2 separate regions of the Homo sapiens genome follow, and region 2 is linked to region 1. Evidence: fine-mapped expression QTL. Tissue or cell type: transverse colon. Region 1 holds a variant in brackets; the other region holds the start of a gene. All regions are shown on one strand. Distances are from middle to middle.

Evidence for each region. PIP is the estimated chance that this variant, and not a neighbour inherited with it, causes the effect.
Region 2: it holds the start of NXPE1, and the variant in region 1 is fine-mapped to the expression of NXPE1 in transverse colon (CEDAR, PIP 0.95).

The regions. Positions count from the first base shown.
Region 1 is chr11:114,517,554-114,526,476 of GRCh38, reverse strand. It overlaps NXPE1 (neurexophilin and PC-esterase domain family member 1), which reads left to right. Exons shown (of 9, transcript NM_001395504.1): 8 at 3,386-3,598; 9 at 3,974-7,543. The coding sequence ends at 4,509. It also overlaps a transcript of NXPE2 not described here. Among named protein-coding and RNA genes, the nearest start is that of NXPE1, 38 kb to the left of the region's middle. The variant A/T (reference allele first, on the strand shown) is at 4,742.
Region 2 is chr11:114,555,894-114,563,333 of GRCh38, reverse strand. It overlaps NXPE1 (neurexophilin and PC-esterase domain family member 1), which reads left to right and starts at 3,453. Exons shown (of 9, transcript NM_001395504.1): 1 at 3,453-3,536. It also overlaps a transcript of NXPE2 not described here.

The sequences.
Region 1 (8,923 bases):
CAATTTAACAAAAGCATGATCTGCAGAAAGGCAATTTAAAATGTCACTAAGGAATATAAAATAAAATTCATATAAATAGAAGGAAAAAATACTGTCTCTAGATGGGATGATTTTATATTTAAAAGAATGTCAGTTGTCTATGTATCATTTTCTTATTGCTGCTATAATAAAGTGGCTTTAAAAAACAAAAATATATCATCTTATAGTCTGTAGTCCAGATGTCCAATGCTGGTCTCATTGAGCTAATCCCAAGGTAGAGCAGGAGCATGTTCCTTCCTGGAGGCTCCAGGGGAGAATCTGTTCCTTTGCTTATTCCAGGTTTTTAAGGCTGCCCACATTCCTTGCAGCCCTCTTCCTCTATCTTCAAAGCCACAGCAGAGGGTCAAGTTTTCCTGTCACATCTTTGACCCACTCTTCTGCCTCCCTCTTCCACTTTTGAGGACCAATGACATTAGATTGGGCCTACCCATGTAATCCAGGATAGTCTCTCCATCTCAAAGGCCATACCCTGGTCATAACTGGAAAAGGCAACATTGTTGTGGGAATTAAGGGACAGGAGAGACCAATGGATGGAATAAGAGGATTTTATTTAGGTGGCTACCTGCCCAGTGGATTAACTTCCAAAGGCTGAGCCCCGAACAAAGACAGGGCTTGACTCTTATACATGTACCTGAAAGGGTATTGGCTAGCTTGAATATACACTTCACTAAATGGTGCAAAACCTACAGGGCGGGCAAGCAAGCTTACAGAAGCAGAACAAAGGCAGTTTATCAAACAGTGACAGGTTTTACAACTCAAGCCAGGTGTTGCAACTCAGGCATATGTTGTGACCTTCACTGTGCTGCACAGAAGGGAAAAACAGGCACTTACAAAACTTGCAAAGATAATTTTAAGAATAGTAAGGGGGGAAGGGGGAAGCTGAATGAGAAAAACTTGTTTTTCCCAACCTTGCTTTGGGATGGGAGGGAGAGACTCTGAAGCCCATCCCTTCTGGGACCCGGCTCTGCAGATAATGCTACCAAAGCCTCATCAGAGCCCTGCCCTTCCCTGGGTCTTAGAGTGGGTCAGCCTAGTACAGGAAAACTTGTTTTTCTTTTTATATCTTCTGCTTCAACATATTCACAGGTTTTAAGAATTAGGATGTGGATATCTTTGGGGGACTATTAGTCTCCCTATCTAATAAAAAATATAATGGAATCTATTTCTCAGTGGGCAGGTCTATGCAAACCTACTCCCAAAGTTTGAGGAAGCTGAGAGGCCAAAAAAGAGTCTGACACATCCAGTTTCTCGAAACATTTAGTAGGGACTTACAAGCAGAAGCCATGTTTATGTCTCCATTGTTGAGACAAGATGGTGGATCTCCACACCATTACCCCCAGATCTAGGGCTTACAGAGCATAAGGGAAGGGTGGTTCAGATGGGATGTACAGGACAATTGAAGTACAATACCACCAAGGCTGTTTGACCTACGGGCAAGATTTACCATAATTATCTGCTGTTATACAAGAAACACTAGATAAACCGGGGTTAATCAGGAGCCAACATAGCAGATTAGCATCTAAAATGGAGTTGCTTTTGCCTGATATACAGAATCCTGATATTATTACCCACATACTGTTCAAAATGCTCAAGCTTATTCTAAAACTATTAAGTAAAATAAACATGTAAGAGTAATCATAAGCAAATTTGTTATAAGTTTGAGACGTGGCAAAATGAATACCTGACACATAAAGATTACACAACATAGGGTTTACAACAATACACTTAAAGGCTATGTTCTCAGCAAAGTGTGCCAGTACATTATTAGGATAAAGAATACTTAATAACTATGAATCTCAAGTTTCCAGGGTCATGGTATTCAATCATCTAGGGTGCAATGCTATCAAGCCTCATAGAAACCCATCAATATCACACTGTAATTCCAACATAATTATAGGATTATACAAACTCCCTTTAGTAAGCCAAATCACCAGGACTTAAGAGCTATTCCAAGTGCACTTTCCAATTCTGCCACCAGCACCATTTTACCACTTTGTCCATAGGTTACAAATACAATACAACCATGTAATGATGCACTATTCTGTGGACATAGGCAGCCAGAGACTGCAAGGCCTCTGAGGAACTAAGCAAGGAGGGTAAAGCAGAAACTGCTGATGGTTCCCCAATACTCACTGCCTTCTCCTTCTTTAGTAATAGAAACCAGTTGTGGCTAGACCCATGGCTATCCTTTCTTATATCTAGTTGTGGCCATGACTAAGTTTTTTCCAGAAGTGCAAGTGGGAAACTTCTAGGTCATGCTTTAAAAGCAAAACAACTGGCCCTCCCTATCCATTTCTTCCCTTACTACTAGCCGAACTTTAGATATAATGTGAGAACAGCAAGAGCCAAGTTAGACCATGAGATTAAAGCCACACAGTAAGAATGTCATAGCCACAACATAGAAGGAACAAGAGTCCCTGACACCATGCAATGGCATATTAGCCCTGGCCTTCTCACTCCAGGCCTGTTATGTGAGACAGAAATAATCTTTTATTTTTAAGTCATTATTATCTTGGTCTTTCTTACAGCATTCAAACTGGTTTCCTATCTCATACAGAACGTAGTATCAGTATAGAAGTCCTGATATAACAAATCCTAAAATACAAGGCATTGGCTCAGTGATGGGATGGCAGCATAGAGAGTGGTAAGGAAACATGACAGGAGAAATTGGATGCCCTTTGTTATGCCATAACAAGACATTTGCTTCACTGCTACCTACCTGTAATAGAAGGCAGACCATGTGCAAACAGAGCCTGAAACTCTAGTGAAACTTCCTGGATTATCTCAGAATATTGGTTTGTATTGGATGTTGCATGTTGCTTTTAGCAAAGTCTGGTTTTACAAAAAATTGTCAAGCTAGGTGACTATTATACTATTTGAGGTTTTTATATTTAATGTACATATTTTAAGCCATTTTTTGAACACGGAAAAATTAAGATTATTCATTCCTTCATTAATGAAACAAAGGTAAAGAATTTTATACAGCGGCACCAACTGGCAGACCACTAACATCATTTGGGTAAGAGACAAAGACAGAAGTCACCACAGAGTCAGGAAAAAAGGATAGAACGTCAAAGAAAGGATAGAACGTCAAGATTTAGCTCATGACCAAATTTAGGAGGAAAGGAATTAGACAGAAGGCAAGATGACTCAAAATCTCTTAAAGGAATAAGCAGAAGTGCCTGAAGCAAAGCTAATGATCAAAGAATAGGACTAGAAAGGGACAGAAAAAGGAAATAGGCATTACAGGAAGGGGGAAAGAGAGCAAGAAAATGAAAGACCAGGAAAGAAGGCTAGATGTCTAAGTTTTGCCAATAAAATCATTTACGAGTGTCTTTGTTACCAGAGAGAGAAAAAATAGAAGAGACATGCCAAGTTGGAATGAAGCCTCCTGTCCCTGGTGGTTATACTTTACAAGGAAAATGGATAACAACATTTTGCAACCAGGTTCAGTTAGACACAATTAAGATAAATGGCTGTTTGAAAGGCAAACTCATTTACCTCCTGGGAGACTCTACACTACGTCAGTGGATCTACTACTTCCCCAAAGTTGTAAAAAGTAGGTAGTTACTTTATATTCTCTTAGAAATTCAGGCTGGTTTTAAAGTACTTTTAATGAGGTCTCTATTCTCTCGTTTGAGCTATTTTGTTTTTTACTTCATTTGGCTCTCTGGATTTGAACCTTTACATTTAAAATGTATTTTATTCCTTCTTTCATAAGAAATGTTGGTCTTCTTTTAAAATTCCAGTGAAAACTTTACATTTTTGATTGACATTTTACATGTATGAACTGGGGGTACTGTACCCTAGAGAGTAGAAAGGCTCCAGTGAGCAATTATCTAGGTAGGGTGGGTATTTTAAATGATAGGACATTCTTTTTCATGAATATTAACCATTATCTTCTATTTAAAACATCTATTTGTTTTTTTATCAGCACTGAAGTTTTTTGATCTTCATGAAACTGGAATCTTTAAGAAACATTTGCTTCTGGATGCAGAAAGACACACTCAGATTCAATGGAAAAAACATAGCTATCCCTTCGTCACTTTCCAGCTCTACTCTCTGATAGATCATGATTATATCCCTCGGGAAATTGACCGGCTATCAGGTGACAAAAACACAGCCATCGTCATCACCTTTGGCCAGCACTTTAGACCATTTCCCATTGACATTTTTATTCGCAGGGCCATCGGTGTTCAAAAGGCTATTGAAAGACTGTTCCTAAGAAGCCCAGCCACTAAAGTGATTATTAAGACAGAAAACATCAGGGAGATGCACATAGAGACAGAGAGGTTTGGAGACTTCCATGGTTATATTCACTATCTTATCATGAAGGATATTTTCAAAGACCTCAACGTGGGCATCATTGATGCCTGGGACATGACCATTGCATATGGCACTGACACTATCCACCCACCTGATCATGTGATTGGAAATCAGATTAACATGTTCTTAAACTACATTTGCTAAGGGATAAATACTATACAAAATCACTAGGAACCAATCTCTGCACATAATCCCACATGTATTGTAAAGTAAGTTTTACTCATTTTAGGAACTAAGGAAAATAAATTTAAAAGAATCTGTTTGGGGAGGAAGGCTATGTAAGGACAATGACAACTGATAAGGGATGCAAAACCAAGAGAATCATTCATGAAGAATGACTATACCATGCCTGGTTCTGATGCTCGTTTAAAATATT[A/T]AAAAAGTTTTTTAAAAGCCATGTTATTAAGCTGATTTGAAAATATCTGTACAAATTCATGATGCTTTCTATTTCCAATATAGATATTTCCTAGCTCTGTCTATTGAAAAGGCCTAGGAGCAATGATAACCCATTAGCAATAATCACTCCGAGCACCCTAACTGTGATGTCTAAGAACCCTTCCTCAATAAAAGAAAAGAGGCATCCTTGAAGGGAAGGCTGATTCCAGGACTGGAACAGAAAATATGTATACCATGAGCCTGGACATCTTGTTATGCCAGAAAGCAAATAATCAAAGACAAATGGAATCATATCATGGAACAGAGGAGGTAACCCAAAGGAGTCTCTTCATTGGCCATAGATAGATTAGTTTTAGCATCAAAAAGACTAATGACTGCAGTTAATTGAAATACATAATATATAAAATCCATGAGGTCATAGCAATACAAAAAGAGACATGCAAGAATAAAAGCAAAATCTCTCATGTGTCGTAAGTGGAGTTGGGTAAACCCTTATTTTGAAAATTGGCAACAAAAGGGAAATATATGAACATTTATCCTCTTTCCTGTTAAAGAGAAAATCAATAACCCTAATAGATAAAGGAAATTTCTTCTTTTTGGAAGAATTACAGCTAATGAATACAGAAAGAACGACAGAATTAGGAAAGCACCATTTAAAAACTTCTACTCAAATAAGTAAATAAGGCAGAGATCATCAGTGAATGAACTTTTTTAAAAGGTTTGATTGGAACTTTACTATGGATATAGCAGGCTGTCACTTCTGAATCCACTGCTCAAACTTAGCTTTATTAATTTTAAAGCTTTGTAACAGCAGGACAACTGGTCATTATGTCCTACATGATTTGATGCAATGTAAAGTATACAACACCACCTATGAAGGAGCGAGATCTGTAAGAAAGATGCTCAATTTGGAAGTCATCATTATATATAGGTGCCTGCTAAAAATGAGGAGATGGTAATATTTTCACACACAAAGGGAACTCTCATACACTCTTGGTGGGAATGTAAGTTGGTACAGCCATTATGGAAAACAGTATGGCAGTTCCCCTAAAAACAGAACTACCATATGACCCAGCAATCCCTCTGCTGAGTATCCCAAAGGAAATGAAATCAGCACTTCATAGAGATATCTGCATTCTCATGCTCACTGCAGCATTATTCACAATAGCCAAGACAGAGAAACAACATAAGTGCCCATCAATAGATGAACAGATAAATAATTTGCAGTATATATGTACAATGGAATATCATTCAGCCTTACAAAAGGAGATGCTGCTATATTTGCAATAACATGGGTGAACCTGGAGGACGTTACGCTAAGTAAAATAACAATATTGAAGGAAAGAAATAATACTGAAAGAAAAATATTGCTTGATCTCACTTATATATGGAACTTAAAAACTACACATAGAAACAGGGTAGAATGGTAGTTATCCAGGCTGGGAGGAAGAGAAAACAGGGAGGTGTAGGTCAAAGGGTACAAACTTGCAGTTCTATTGGATGAATGTCTAGAGAGCTAATGTACAGCATGAGAACTATAGTTAATATTGTATATGGAAAATTTGCTGAGAGACTAGATTTTAGGTATTCTACCTCAATTAAAAAGGTAATTGTGGCCAGGCACGGTGGCTTACGCCTGTAATGCCAGCACTTTGGGAGGCCTAAGCGGGAGGATCACGAGGTCAGGAGATCGAGACCACAGTGAAACCCCGTCTTTACTAAAAATACAAAAAAAAATTAGCGGGCAAGCTCGCCGAGATGGCACCACTGCACTCCAGACTGGGCTACAGAGCGAGACTCTGTCTCAAAAAACAAACAAACAAACAAAAGGTAATTGTGCAGTGAGGAATATGTTAATATACTGACTACAGTAATCATTTCACTATGCATATGTATATCAAAACATCACACTGTATACCTTAAATGTATGCAATAAAAAATAAAAGATACATACACAAAATTCTTTAAATGTCCCACACACAAGACAAATACGTGTTCAAATACATCAGTCTCTGAAGCCTCTGCACCACTCTACACGCTGCTCCTTCTGACTAGAATGCCCTCCTGCCCCTCCTTCCACCTGTCAAACTCCCAATCACCCTTTAAAACCAGATTGAATTATTTTCTTCTGTGAAGCTTTCCCTGACACCCCGGGAAAGAATAATGTTTCCACAGTGTTTTGTCATTTACTCCATAAAAGAAACAAAAACATGTATTTTTAAAAGTATCTGTTATCTCTAATAGCTTGTAAACATCTTGAGGAAAGAGACTAAGTTTTGCTTCTTTTTCCCCCAAAGAGAACTTTATTAAAACATTTACCATCTCTTTAGAGAGAGGTTTTACCATCTCTTTAGAAAGCTCCAGAATCTACAACCAGGAATAAGTGTTAATGGGATAGAACCAATGAGAGAACAGCATATGATAGTGAAATGTACTTTATTATTAATACGAATTCAGTGGGCTCACAGAATGAACCTTTTTGCCAAACGGGGGGAAAGCATTTTCTGTAAAGTATCTTTAGAAAAATATGTATAATTTGAAAAATGGTTATCCAAATTTAACATTTGTCATATAAAAGGCTCATAAAACGTGTGTGGCTGTGTTTCTCAAAATTGTGGGGTCAATTGGTCACATTATGCCTAGACATTCTGGTTTTGTTCTTGGGGTTAATAATGGTTGTGGTCTTATAAGAAAAGGAAATCTGGAAATCTTGTCCCTGTTATTAATACACCTGTCATTACTAATAAAAGTGGTTTGTTGATATGCTAAATAGGTTGAAAAAGCTGTCACTTTGCATGAAATTAACTAGGGAATACTTCTTTATAGCATGAATATGTAAATGTTCAAAATTTCACAGTAAACTCAAGAAATTAATTTCTAGTTCTCTCACCTTGTATCCAATATAAGTGCAAATTAACTTACATTTAACCTTCCTGGGCTGAGGTAAGTAAATTTGCAAACACAGAGTTAAAAGCTTCCTTTTTATTCCCCAAAAACATTTCTGTTAATTCACAGCCCTTCCCTGGATGAGTCAAGATTTTTGACACTCTTGAGGTGTCACCACAGAGCAAAGGATACCTCAGAGCAAAGTGATGGTCTGCCCATTTCTCAATTCCCCCTTCTATCTATTCAGTTTCCAACAATTAAGATTTCAATTTCCAAATATATCCAAAAGATCTTCAGACATCCAGACAAGAACCCCATTCACAAAAACAAGGTGCTCTTACATACAGTAAAAACATTCCCTTTTTGTCAAGGTTTATTTTTCCAGTCTTCACCTGAGGCTGGTAGCTGGCAGCATCTTCTTTAAAGATAGGATTTTCCTTCATTGAAATATTCCATGTGGCCCTTTGGCTATCTAGGCATGTTTTACAGCCTAAAGGTGTAACACTTAGAGCACAGAGCAATGGCTGTGGGGCTGAATGTGCTGAGCTAATCCTAAAGTTTTCTGTACCTCTCAGCAGATCTCGGAGAGGCAAGGCAGATGTTGCTGAGCACAGTGATTCCCGCCACTGTTTCTGGTCTCAAAGCCTGAATCGTGTTAATTGCAGCTCTTGGTAAGGAAAAAGGAGTGCTGGTGTGAAGATAAGCACCAAATAGCAGAGAGCCACATTCAACCCAAAATTTATACCCAGAGGGTGGGAACACTTAAGTCCCATCATCGCATACTACAGAGCCTGCTCCAACCTCACAGGAAGCCAAGACATCCAGGCACCTACGCACCTTGTGAACCTGTTCCCAGCATTCCTAAGGGTCACTTTGTAATCCATGGCATGTGCCTCCCCCTGGTACTTGTGTGGCTATAACAAAGAGGAGGACTAGCAGATGCAAAGCTGTGGGAGCAGAGCCACCAGGGGTGCAGCTGGGACCTCCATCAGGGCATGGTTTATGAAGGCCCCTAAATGGTCTGTGTGCCACCTTGATGTCAGTTTCCCACCAAGCCTCCTTCTCCCCTTACTTCCTGACCCCCAACCTCTGGTTTCTCTATTCTCTTCCAACTCACCAGAGTGGAGGAAGCATCCTTCATGGAGATGCACAGCTGTGATCCCAGCTCCATGATTGGAACCATTTTATTCATCTTTAGTCCTTAGCACTGGGCCCAGCACATAGTAGCAAGCAATAAATATTTGTCAAATAAGTGATGCTGTATCTCTGTGTATCT
Region 2 (7,440 bases), 38 kb before region 1:
TATGAGGAGAAAGTAAAATTTCAGAAAAGCTTCCTGAGAGATAAAAAGAGAGATGAGGGATTAGTGACAGAAAATATGACTCACCCTCTTATTTGCCCTCATCTTTATTGCCTCTTGTACTGAACATCTCTTGCTGAATTGTGACTAATATTCCTACTTCCAGAAAGAGGGCCCCTCTTTTCCTGGAGAACTGTACCTTCCCCACTTTATAGCATGCTACTGAGACTCTGAGACTCTCAATCATGTGATTTTTGCCTATTTTTGGTGCCTACTGGTTCATCAAAACACTCTTCCCCCAAACCCTTCATAAGTGATTGGTACTAGCACAGTTGATTAGAGTTGTTGGTTTTTTTCTGTGACTTAATATAAATTCTGAAAAGAAATGGGTCTCTCTCATTCTGAGATCTTGAACACCAACGACCATGTATGGCTTAAGCATGTTAGGACTATCTTGCTGCATTATCTTGAGAGCAAGCATCTCTAAGAAAATAGGACAGGAGAGCCTACAGGCTTAGAGAGAAGCTTGATTACATTGTTTGAACCACAGATCGAGCCTTATCTGAAGCTAGATTAATTCCTAAGACTTCCCACTCATATGAGTCATTAAGTATACTTTTTCCTTTAGCTTGTGTGATTGGATACAACGACTGAAAGAGATAATTTACTTCTGTAAAGTCAACTTGACTCTGGATAGTAATAAATAAGAGAGATTACAGATGCAGTTGTGAAAGTTGTTACAGAGTCTAGGAAAATGGCATAATTAAATAGTCCCAGGATTTATGTTTGATATCAAACAGAACTTGTTGGATATCCTGATGAGAAATATGTAAAATAATAGTATTTCTGTCTTTTCCTATGATTCCTACTGAAATCAGTAAAGGTGGACACAGAGTTTAACAGAGACAGCCATGAGGTATGACCTCTCCACATATCATATGGAAGCACTGAGAATGTGTGCAAGGGCTGGGAAGACAGAGCAGTGCTGTGCATAATCCCCAAGAGGGAAGAAGAGAGCATGGACTCTCAGAAGACTGGATATTGGCACTCAGCACCAGGAAATATTTCTAACCACTCTCCCAGAAGAAAATGCAATAAATAAACCCAACATTTACAGGGAGGCTAGCAGAAAATTTCAAATGCAAAGATGAACACATAACCAAAAATTACCAATCATTTGAAAGAGACTAACACTTGAAAGAGAGGCATAAAGCACAATAATCAGAAGAAATTGACATGCCAAGAAAACAAAGTTAAAAGGACAGTTGATACAAGAATTTAGAATAAGTGTGTTTAATTACCAGACTGATGTGAGAGGATATTGCAGCCATACTTAGAGTTAACTAGATATTTGTTAAATTTAAAATATGATACGTGAAATAAAGAAAAACTTGAGGGACACACTAAAGTTCAAAATGAAAACAATAAACTGGAGAAATAAAATGTTAACTCAAGAATTCTTGCAGAATACAGAATAAAAGGAAAGTGTGATCAAAATTATGAAAGAAAAGTTAACAGATATTAGATCTCAGGTCTAATGGGCCATTAAAAGCGCCAAACATGATGAAGATAAAAAGATCTGCATAAAATTTCATAATACCAAGGATGAAGAGAAAAATGCTACAAAGATTCACAATTATACTAACTTTGACATCAGACATTTCATAAATGACATTGGATGCATGAAGAGAATGAAACAGTATCCTCAAGGCTAAGAAGAAAAATATTTTTCACCTAATTCTATAGCAAGTAAATTTATCATCTATTTAGGAAGAAAAAATATGTACTCAGTCTAATACTGGTCCCCTCTGAAAGAGCTACCAAAGACTTTACAAGATAAGAAACAAATTGAGTAGTGAGGAGTAGGTTTTAGAAACAATATTGGTTAAAGAAACCAAGGTAACAAACAATATTGCCTAATTGTGAGTGAGGCAATATGTTCATATGAACTGTTGACACATGCAATAACTTGGATGGACATCGTGGACGTTACGCTGAGTGGGAGAAAAAAGCCAATCTCAAAATTTACTCCCATGCATAAATAGTAGTAGTTGGGGTGGTGATAGTAGTAGTTGCTAATTATTTAGTGCTTAAACTAAGTGTCAGAAACTGTTTTTAAATGTTGTACATGTATTAATTCATTTAATCCTATGAGTACTTAGCACAGTACTAATAATACTTGTGATCTTCAAAACTAAATCTTACAAATTGGCACAGGGTCTGGGCATCCAGGCTTAGAAAGAGAGATGAAGTTAGATTTATGTTACAGAGCTGAAGTAACAGTCACATGACAAATATGAAGGTTCCAGAGGGAAGGGCATGAGGCATGAGAGAAAGGTCTCCAATATGTAGTCAGTAAAATATTATTCAGCACTAAAGAAATAAGCTATCAAGCCACAAAAAGACAGAGAAACTGAAATCCGTATCGCTAAGAGAAAAGCCAATCTGGGACAGCTACACACTGTATGATTGCAGCTATGTGACATTCTGTAAAAGTCAAAACCATGGAGACAGTAAGAAAACCAGTGGTGACCAGGGGTTAGAGGGGAAAGAAGGATTAATAGGCCTAATTATTCATATACACCCATATATTCCCTTTCATGTTACAGGCATTTGGCATAGCAGAAGTTACAGCAACATTTACTGTATTGGTGAATTAAATAATGTTTATGATAATGACGAGTTAATGAACCATATCCCCTTTCCCTAACTCAGAGCAAATAGTCCTTCCCCATTTATTAGATATCCTTTTCAAACCGATAAAAGATCCAGCTGGGAAAAGTGGCTCATGCCTGTAATCCCAGCACTTTGGGTGGCCGAGGAAGACAGACCACTTGAGCCCAGGAGTTCAAGACCAGCCTGGGCAACATGGTAAGACCCCATCTCTACAAAATACAAATTAAAAATATTAGCCAGGTGTGGCAGCATGCACCTGTAGCCCCTAGGCCCAAGGCAGAAGGATGGCTTGGGCCCAGGAGTTCGAGGTTGCAGTGAGCTATGATCACGCCACTGCACTCCAGCCTGGGCAACAGAGCAAAACCTTGTCCAAAAAAAAAAAAAAAAGAAAAAAAAAGAATTCTCAATCACCCACCAGTTCTCTGCATGGTGTCCACTGACAATTTGTTCTCTTGTTTGGAGTTGTCGTGAGACTTCAGATTTTCTGAGGAAAGCCTATCCATAGAGTCACTTGGGGTATTTTTACACTATGACTTCAAGGACCACAGCTGTTTCAGAACTAAGAGGTTTTCCATTCCCAAGGGTCACCAGTAACATGGAGAGAGAAGGAATCTCAAAGAATACCCGAGTAACACCCAGTTAACAGAGGCTGTGGAATTATCTAATTGTCAGTTAATTGTACTACTGTTTATTGCCTCTTCAAATCTCCACCCCAAGATAAGCCAATTTACGAGGAAAACAGACTGATGAAAATAAATGTGTTCACAGACAAGGAACAAAAACATTTTACACAGCCACAAGAGCCAGTTAAGAACTCACAGGTACTTTTCCAGCCACCCAGATAGGAGAGATCATTAAAACAGGTGAGTAAGCAAAACTATGGAGACTGCCTTTCTCTATTTCTAATCTTGCCAGTGGTCAGTGGAGGGCAGGGAAGAACAAAGCAAAAGAAATTAGAAAGACTGTGTCTGCTGAGGGGTTCTCTCAAGTCAGAGAAAGATAAGAAAAGGGAGAAAGCTCAGAAGAAAGTGTGGGAAACAAAAAAAAAAACTGATAGTGAGAGCCTCTCTTACTGACAAGGATAGGCTGGTTTTGACGGTGAGACAGCATCAAGATAAAATATTTCTCTAATAACCAACCAGCAAAAGTCCCCAGTGCTTTGTGGGAAGCAAGCATGGATACAGTCACTCAACCTAACATCTAGTTGGAGAGAGGAAGAAGGACATCAAAAATACCTGTTTACAACTGATATTTCTTTGCCTTGTTTTATGTATGACATTGTTTGGGTGGAAAATGTATGAATATGTCACAGGAATTCAAAATACGGGAGAGATCGTTGTGGTCTAGAGTTATGCTGGAAAGTTTCCTGTAGAGATTGCCCCTGAGCTGGGGATTCACTGACTATAGAGTCTAGATTGGTGCAGGGGCAGGCCACCCCAGGTGGGCAGTAGGATGAGTCATAAACAAAGCCAGAAAAGCAGGAAGGATTCTTTTTTAATTTTTGTCTTTGAGTATGTGTGTATCCATGTATTGTGCTTTGTATGTATATTTTTAATTTACATAAAAATGTGATAAAGATTTATGTTTATTTCTTTCTTCACTTAGAGCTGTTTTTAAGAGCTCTTCATATTACAGGTAAATCTAGTGAGTTGTATCTAACTGTTGGATAGTATCCCACAATACACATCCACTACATGTTTCTTAACCATTTCATAGTAATACATATTAAAGTCTATTTAATTCCCTACAATTACAGCTATACATATAATCAACTGAAAACAAACTTTGTATGTGATTCTTTATGGACCTGACTGAGAAGTCCTCTGTGATGTATCCAGAATGAATTGCTTGGACATAGGGCATAGATAAACACAAACTAACAGAAATATTGCCATTCTGCTTTCAAAACGATCATGTTAATTTGTACTCTTACATAGCACAGCAGAGTTATGTATAAAGATCCAATCTATATTGTGACCTAGTTCAGCTTAAGTCCATAACAGGAGGATTGTTTAGCTTTAGAAAATATACGAATGTAATACATCACATTTAAACATAAAAGTTTAAAAATTCATATAATTACCTCAATGAATCAGAAAAGGCCTTTGTCAATAACTCAACTTCCATTAGTAATAGAAACACTTCACAAACTTTCTTAAAAGAGAACTTCCTCAATCTAATAGAAGGCATTAAGAAAAGCAAATATCACAAATCCAACATCATATATTTAATTACACATAGTAAAATGTTGAAACTAACTATGAAAACAAGGCAAACGTACCCAATATGGCCACTTCTAATCATCTTTGTTCTCTATGTGTGCCTATATAAAAGCACTATTAAAATAAAGCACTTGCATTTCTACACATCAGCCACAGATATTTGTTTGGAAAATGAAATAAAAAGAAAAACATATAGAATGTGCATATATATGGATATATATATACACACACACATAAACACATATACATAGATGTGTGTATAGTTTATATTTATAATTATAAATAAAATTTATGTTTCCCAAAATAGTAGACTTGCTTATAGTCTCCTTTTGAGAGCAACTAGAAAAGCTAGAGGATGTTATATTTGATCTGTTAAGCGTCAGAGAGCAACTGGGGCAGTGAGGGGTTGAGAGATCTAGATTCTAGAGAGAAAGCAAGAGAGGAACAAAGGGCAGTTAGGGAAATAGAAGGAAAATGAGGTAACATATTCAAAGTGCTGATGCTTTTAACCACCAAAAACAAAAATAAATAAATAACACTTGTCAATCTAGAATTGTATAGCCCGCAAAAGAAACCCTCAAAATGAAAGCAAAATAAGATTTTTTAAAATGTAACCTTGAGAATTTGTCACTAGAAGATGTCTTACAGAATATTAAAGATAGTTCTTGAAGCAGAAGATAAATTCTCCCAAATGACAGTAGAGAACGGCAAAGAAGAATGAAAAAGAAGGAAACTAAATGTACAAATATAAATGAACAAGGATTTTATATATATATATATATATATATATATATATATATATATGTATTATATATAATATATTGTGGTGTTTTAAATATTCCTAGAATTAAACCAGTCAGTGGTGAGTGCCTATAGTCCCAGCTACATGGGAGGCTAAGGTAGAAGGATCACTTGAGCCCAGTAGTTCCAGTCCAACCTAGGCAGCATATTTCTTTTCCATCTCTAAAAGAAATAAAATAAATATTTCTAGAACTGAAATGCCTGACTATAGCAAGAAAATGTGAAAGAGTTAAATGTAAATGGAGTACAGTTTTCTAAGGTCCCTCATTTCCTAATAATTAGTAAAAGTACCAATTTATATTAGACTTCATTAAGTCAAAGATGCATATTGAAATTTCCAAAATAGAGTAGAAATTATTAAAGTAGTTTTTATAACAAGCTAAATGAGAATGGAAATAGAATAATTTTAGAGTTTTTGACTAATACACAAGAGGTCAAAAAGGGGGCCGGGCACGGTAGCTCATGCCTGTAATCCCAGAACTTTGGGAGGCTGAGGCACGCAGATTACTTGAGGTCAGGAATTCGAGACCAGCCTGGCCAACATGGTGAAACCCCGTCTCTACTAAAACTACAAAAAATTGGCCAGGTGTGGTGGCTCACGCCTGTAATCCCAGCTACTCAGGAGGCTGAGGCACTATAATTGCTTGAACCCAGGAGACAGAGGTTGCAGTGAGCCAAGATAGTGCCACTGCACTCCAACTTGGGCAACAGAGTGAGACTCTGTCTCAAAAAAAAAAAAAAGTCAAAAAGGGAGAAAATGGAATAGAAATAGAGAAGGTGGGACAAATAAAAACCAAATAGTAAGATAAAATTACATAGATATATCAACGATAATATGAAATATAAATGGACTAGGAAGTTCCAGCTGCAAAAAATGTCAGAGTGGCTTAGATGAGACTAATATTTCTCATAGAACAGTATTAAACTCTGGAAAAAAATACATTTTAAAAAATGATATGAAAGCACTAGAAAAAGGCCAAAAACTGGCAGAAACTAGAGGGAATTTGACACTTAAAAGTAGGGAATCATGCTGCGTGGGAGCCAGCTTTAAGGGCTCTTATCCTGACAATATACCTCAGTGTGTACTGTGCAAAGCAACTTGAATTCAAGCAGAAAACTGCAGACTTGCAGCCTGGAGATGTCACAGGATGGAGTTCAAGGCAATTGACCAGGGAAATTCCAGGAGAAAGGCCTTAGAAGAAAAAGCCCTGAAATCTACTCTCAAATCTTTGACTGATCCCTGAGCTCTGTGTATCCAAGGGAGACTCCACAAAGTGTAGCACAGAACAACTGCTGAATAAGTAGAGATTTAATCTGTTGCTCACTGAAGGAGGAAACAGAGTTTGTAGGTTTTGAGTTCCAGTAAAAAGGAGGAACGTGGTGTAAAAAGCCCAGGCTTTTCAAGACCCACCTTAAAGTAAATAAAACCAACTCTCCATAAATTCAAACTGAGAGGTATAAACTGTTTTCATGAATTGGAAAACTCAATATTGTTACTAGAGCAATTCTCCCCAAATTTACCTACAGATTAAGAGCAATAAATTCCAGTAGGCTTTTTGTAGATTTGTCAAAAGTTAAACATTTACTTACCATATGGCCCTGTCATTCCACCCTTAGGTACTTACCAAAAAGAAATTAAAACATTTGTCCATATAGAGAACCATATATGAATATTCAGAGCAGCTCTATTCACAATAGCCCCAATCTTTAAACAACCCAAATATTTATCAAATGAGGAATAGAT